Regions from separate parts of the Homo sapiens genome. Here region 1 is reported to be linked to region 2. Evidence: microRNA targets listed by miRTarBase, many of them from high-throughput screens and not tested one by one. Region 2 holds a microRNA gene; the other region holds the end of a gene's coding sequence.
The links. The annotated mature microRNA hsa-miR-130a-3p reads CAGUGCAAUGUUAAAAGGGCAU and lies in region 2 at 1,701-1,722, shown strand. An mRNA with a match to its seed (bases 2 to 7 or 8) in the 3' UTR can be bound and repressed. Matches are read on the target gene's strand: a 7mer-m8 pairs with bases 2 to 8, a 7mer-A1 pairs with bases 2 to 7 and ends in A, and an 8mer does both.

Region 1 (3,128 bases), not on the chromosome of region 2:
GAAGGGGTGGTAAGTTCCTTCTCAATATATATGGCTATATTGAAACATGTTCACTTTCCTGATATGTAAAATAGACTATATTATTATTATTATTATTTTTTACAGATAGCATCAGCTCTAAAAATATCTGAATTGGAAATCACAACTATTTACTTTTATCAAAAAGCATTTGTTTTTTTCCCTGAATTTTCACATTTGTGCTGATGGTGGACATTAATGGTGATGAAAACAAAGAAGAGACATGTGAGATGGTCGGCGGAGAACTGTCCCACAGTCATTCCTCAAGAGGCCCCCAGCTCAGACTGCGTGTTCAGCAAAGTGTTTTGGGAGTGCTGCTTCCTCTGCCTGGCACGGGATGACCTCACACTCTCCCTGCCCCTAAGTCCCTTTGCAGTTGCTGCGCGAATACTCTGAAGATACCTAGGAAGAGTGACGTTCTCGTTTTCTCTGTTAATGCGGCAAAGAACAGGACTGCACCCTCTTGGGGGGATCTACAGTCTCTGGAGATGCTGAGAAGTGTTATGAATTGGGTTTGTATACAGCAGAGAAGACATATTTTTAAGGGTGGTGGAATGATCCCATCTCATCATATGTGTGGCAGGTGGCTCAACCTTATGCCTTATGTATGAAGAGCAGGCAGAACAGCTCCATGATATTTGTGTACTGAGAGGTGGATCATGCCATTGTACTAACAGGCAGACCAGCAACAGATGATATTGAGACTTAAGACTAGGTGAACCAATACCATATCTTTCTTCCACTGGGAAGACATATGCCTGTTACTGTATTGAGGATAGACAGAACTACACTATTGTACTTGGGACATCATCCATCAACATTACATTAAGAGAACAACATTGTTCCATTGTACTACAGACAGGCAGACCAATAACATGTCATCTTTACTGACAGGTGAGCCAACACTATAGCATTGTATTCATCAGTGGTTCAACCTAATGCCACTGTACTGAGGAATGGCCAACAACACCATGCTGTTGGACTAAAAGCAGGCAGGACAATGCCAGGTCATCAAACGAGGACAGGAAAACCAACACCAAGAAATACACCAGAACCACTCAGGATGCACACAAATACTTATTGCTTTTGTCTGTACTGGCTGCATCGATGGCTGCAGGAAGGAGAGTTGAGCTTTTAGTACAGACAGTGACACTGAAAAACCAATAGCTGGTTGACAAGAAAGAGAACAGAGTAAAACACCCAATGTCCAACTGTCACTGTGTCCTTTTGAGATGTGCATGTCTCCTGTATACTTGACTTCATGAGAGGCCCCACCCAAGGGGCAAGAACCCCTCCTGACCCATGAGGGTTAAGGGAAGGTTTCAGAGGGGCAGGGAAGGAGCCCACAGACTTTGATATGGCAGACAGTAATACCAGCACAATATTACCCATGCTGGCCAGAAATGGGCAGGTAGCAACAATCCAACTACAGTCCCAACAATTGGGCTATGGGAAATAGTGCTTATTTTAAAGTGCAAGATGTTGACACTGTCCCTGGCAGAACCTATTTTTGAAAAACATAAAGTGCTTTTTATTTTAACTTTTTTTTTTTTAACTTGAAAACCACAGAAAACAAAACAGAATTTCTATTATAGTAGGTACTTTCCTTGCTGCAGCAGGAATTATTCAGTCTGAACTGGGCATTTCAATGCGTGGTATTTTTTTCCTTTCATTTTTGCAAGTAAAAAAATCATATTTTTATGCTGTTCTTCAGTAACACACAGTCTCTTTGAATAAACTATTTCTTTTGCATATTTGACACTTGCATATCTTTTGAGTCTACACTAGTGATGTAAAGAAAGCGTGTTCCTCCTCCAACCCTAAAACAATGCTCTGAGTTCATGCTGTTGGCTGGGTGCCCACCTTCTGAACCCTTCCCAGATTGCCAGGGGGCAATTAGAATTGAGTACAAGTGGTGCAACTCACCCTGATGGTATCTCAAAATAAAATCTCAGGTACTATGAAATACCGAAGTCAATGAAGACATTTGAGTAAGGGTTTTGCGCTGGGATCGTGGCTTATGGCGCAGAGACTTCCCCATGACCAATCATTCCCTGTAGCTGTCTAACAGTGGAATCCATCCAGGAGGTGATGGACAGGTGTTCCTAGGGGTGGCTGGGCAACATTCAATACCAAATTGGTCAACCCACTCTTTCAACACCAGCCGCTTGTTCCAGCATCCTTCTCTAGCTGAAGCCAGGAGGACTGTCAATGTTGCCCTCCGAGGCTGAGATGGAAAGCCACGAGAGAATGGGGAGTATGTGGCCTCGGTCCTGTCTAAAGTGGTGGTAGTGGTGGCTGTGAGTTCCACTCATGTCATCTCCCAAAGAGGGCTATAGAGTTGTTACAAGGAGGTGCTGTGCCCTATGGCTTGGCCAACTTCATGCTGATGGACCTGTCATGGCTCTCAAGGTCTTAGGGAGCCTTCTCTGGAGTCTCTCTTCTCTCTGAGGGCTTTACAGGGCCTTTCTGTTCCAGAGTTCATGCAGAAAAGCTCTGTGGCAGGTAAGCTGAACAGCTCTCCTCTTTGGACCTCACCCAAAAGTCTCTCCTCCAAGGCAGGGCAGTTCAGATGCTCTGATCTCGTGTGCTTCCATGGGCTCCTCCCCCTGGCAACACACGGACGTCAGGGGAGATGTGGTTCTCAAGTTTGCACTTTTCCTGACCACTGGGGCCTTTTCCAGTCAATGCTTCTGTGGAGTAAATACAGTTCTGCCTTAAGAACTTAGGGGAGGTGGGTAAAGGGGAGCTTTCAAAGTGGTTTTTCTCCGATCTTGTCCCCGTGCTGAACTTCGGACTGGTGCTCCCAGGGAGGCTTTTGGGGGGGCTGGAGTCCACACTGTAGAGCAGCTGTCCCTCATCATCTGTGTCTGCGTCAATGTACTGGTGGACACCCGCCTCAAAGTTGAACGCTATTGCTGTGTGTTTCTCAGGAGACCGGGGGGGTGTCTTAGCACTTGCTGTGGTGTAGATGGAGGACTCTGGGCTCAGCACAGCCTTGTCCAAAAGCGTGGCACACTCCAGTCCAGCGACAGCAGCCGCAGCACTCCCCCGGTTCCTGAGAGGGTCATGGTACATCCCTAGAACGGGGAGGAGTGGACTGGGGTCAC
Region 2 (3,128 bases):
GGCCGGAAGATGGTGGCCAATGAGGAGGGGGAGAGGAGAGAACTTGAGCCGGGGCCTCCCCTCCCCCATTTCCTCCTCGGTCTCTACACTCGCTTCTGGAAGGAGCTGGGGGCTGGCTCCTGGGCCCAAGGTGGGGGAGGGGTCCTGCTGGCTGGTGAGTCGCTGGGCCTGCTCCTCAGGAATGAGTTGGGTGTGTGAGAGCTGAGGGGCTCTTGGCCCTTTCTCCCTGCACTCCCTAAGGAGAGACCTGGAAACTTCTTGGGGAAGAATCTTCCCCTGGCCTCCCTGAAGCTTGCTGTGCAGCCTTATCTTTGCCCCTCTGCCCCCTGTTGGTGTGATCCAGTTCCCAGCTGGGCCTGGTTTGCCCAACCCCAGAGCAGAGAGGTCACTGACCCTCGAGGGGTCTTGGTTTCCGCCCATTAAAACTGTAGGGCAGGGCCCCATGTTTGCAGATTACGGGAACAAACTCTGCCGGGGAGAGCGGGAGGGAACGTCTCCTGCTTCCTGAGGGGGTGGGACGAGGCTAGAGGGAAGCCCAGAGGAAGAGCTCCCAACTGGAATTCTGTCCTCTATTCCTTACGGTGGCTGTGGATTAGGGAAGAAGGCATCTCCCCTTCGTTGATCGGGGCACTGGAGGAATCACCCTCCAGCCTCTGTTTCTCTGGGCTGCCCAAAGTTCACTGGGTCAGAACTGGAGCTGGGCTCCGGGGCTGTGGCCCTAGCTGGAATGTGCCACAATAGAGCCTGCCTGGGTCTGAGCCTCCAGATATCCAGGTGTCCTTCCAGGGCAGCTTTCTGGCTTTGGGTGTTAATCTTCCGGGGACTGTTTGTCCTGTATTTAAGCCCCCTTAGGGTTGGATAGGATGGGGAAGTGCTAGGATGAGCTTGAAGACTCCCCAACCAAGGGTCCCTGGATAAGACAGGAAATAACTCAGATGTGAATCCCACTGCCAGTGAAAGCCTATCCCTAACTCTCAGTAACTGTGAGCGAATCACCCTCACCATTTTAATGCTGAATCTGCAAAGTGCTTTCAGGACCTCCAAAAGGAGATGCAGGGGTGGGGCTTCACCAGCAGCTTTCACCTCCCCGCCTGGAAGCTTCTCTCTACTGCGTGGGGAGCTGTGACTACAGGCTCCCACCTCTCTGGTCCTGGAAGGTCATCTGAGAGTGTTGCCTTGAGGCCTAGAGCTCTGCTTTATCTAAATTTAAAAGGAGATGGAAACTTAGAGAAGAGTAGAGGGTTCTGTAGTCTTGGGCAGCAAGCTCCTCTCTAGAAGGTAAGCTAGCGGAAATGCAAATCCAGATGAACACAGCCTCATACGAGTGACCTCCAGACTTTGGGGATTGCTAATAGCCGTTTTCTTTGAGGACTGAGCATCAAGCCCGAAGTATCCCTGCAGCTGCTTTAGTGGGTCCTGTCCTCCCATGCCAAAACCTCCAAGAAAAAGGTGGTCTCTGTGCTGGGGGTCAGGGGGTTGGTGAAGAAGGCGGCAAAAGGAAGAGTGGTGAAAAAATAGAATGAACACTAAGAATGGAATAAAAGGGAAAAAAGCTGTATTGAAGCAAAGAAGGGGCAGAGGGAGCCCGTGAGCTGAGTGGGCCAGGGACTGGGAGAAGGAGTGAGGAGGCAGGGCCGGCATGCCTCTGCTGCTGGCCAGAGCTCTTTTCACATTGTGCTACTGTCTGCACCTGTCACTAGCAGTGCAATGTTAAAAGGGCATTGGCCGTGTAGTGCTACCCAGCGCTGGCTGCCTCCTCAGCATTGCAATTCCTCTCCCATCTGGGCACCAGTCAGCTACCCTGGTGGGAATCTGGGTAGCCTCACTTGTTAGTTATACTAATAGCTCTCATTTATGGAACTACTTCTGTATGCAGTGCTTGTGATAGACACTGCCTCCGTTACTGTGAAACCTAATAACTTCTGGGAGGTAACAGCCCCATTTTATGGATGAAAAACTGAGGGTCAGAAAGGTTTAAACAGTTTGGCTAAGATTGTGTAGCTCTTAGGTTGCAAAGCCTAGATACAACCCTGTGTTAAGTCTTGACAGCTCACTCATCTTTTTGTAGACCCATCTGGAGAGATCTGAATAGGTTCTTCAAACTGGGAGATTTCCTGAGCTGAGGGGTGGAAGGTTTTGATGCCATCTGCTGGTTGTATGAGGATATCTTCCAAAGCCTCAAACCTTTAAGGACCAGAAGTGGTGGCAACTCCTTAGGCTAAGAAGGATAAGCATTCCCAGACTCAGCCCGGAATGGAGAGTGAGTGGAAAAAGATTAGGAGAATCACTATTAGGTACAGAGTAGGCCTCCTTGAGAAAAAAAGGAATGCACCAGAAAGGAAAGGGGGTTAACTCGAGAGGATTGCTCCCCAAAGAAAAGGACCTGTGTGCTGCTGGCATCCCATACCTACAGCTCCTTCCCTGGCTCATGAGGCATGGAAAGACCTCACTCCTTCCCTGAATCCACTTACCTTTCTCAGCACCACTCCCTCTTGGTCACGGGGTGTTTGATGGTAATGCTGCTTGAGGGCACACCTGTCTGGGCATCCAAGATTTGGACAGCGTTGCCCATGACTTAATCTTAAAGATTAATAGGATCCCTTGAATCAACCCACAGAATGATTCTCCCAGGACCAATTACAAGGAAATTGAGGCCGGGTGCGGTGGCTCACGCCTGTAATCCCAACACTTTGGGAGGCCGAGGCGGGCGGATCACCTGAGGTCAGGGGTTCAAGACCAGCCTGGCCAACATGGTGAAACCTCGTCTCTACTAAAAATACAAAAATTAGCCAGGCGTGGTAATGCACGCCTGTAGTCTCAGCTACTTGGGTGGCTGAGGCAGGAGACTCTTGAATGAATCTTGGAGGCAGAAGTTGAAGTGAGCCGAGATTGCGCCACTGCACTCCAGCCTGGGCAACAGAGCGAGACTCCATCTCAAAAAAAAAAAAAAAGAAAGAAAAATTTGAGAGCAATGACTCAGCCATTTACTTCTCTGTCTCCCACAGTGCCTAGTAGGCTTAATTAAAACTTGTTAAAATAAATTGAATGAGAGGAATATTTGGGGAGCTTCTTTAAGAAGGCAGCTAGTATTCCTGGTCTTTTGGCTAAGATCAAGTGAAGAAGGCAGC

Region 1: miRTarBase lists KCNB1 as a target of hsa-miR-130a-3p. Seed matches in the 3' UTR shown: 7mer-m8 at 1,490-1,496.

The regions. Positions count from the first base shown.
Region 1 is chr20:49,370,397-49,373,524 of GRCh38, forward strand. It overlaps KCNB1 (potassium voltage-gated channel subfamily B member 1), which reads right to left. Exons shown (of 2, transcript NM_004975.4): 2 at 1-3,128. The coding sequence ends at 2,587. The region is part of intron 2 of LOC105372649 (a long non-coding RNA gene); the gene reads left to right. Among named protein-coding and RNA genes, the nearest start is that of SNORD12, 91 kb to the left of the region's middle.
Region 2 is chr11:57,639,552-57,642,679 of GRCh38, forward strand. MIR130A (microRNA 130a) reads left to right here and starts at 1,647; the gene lies at 1,647-1,735. All of the region lies in intron 1 of MIR130AHG (MIR130A host gene), which reads left to right. RefSeq lists an enhancer at 1-444.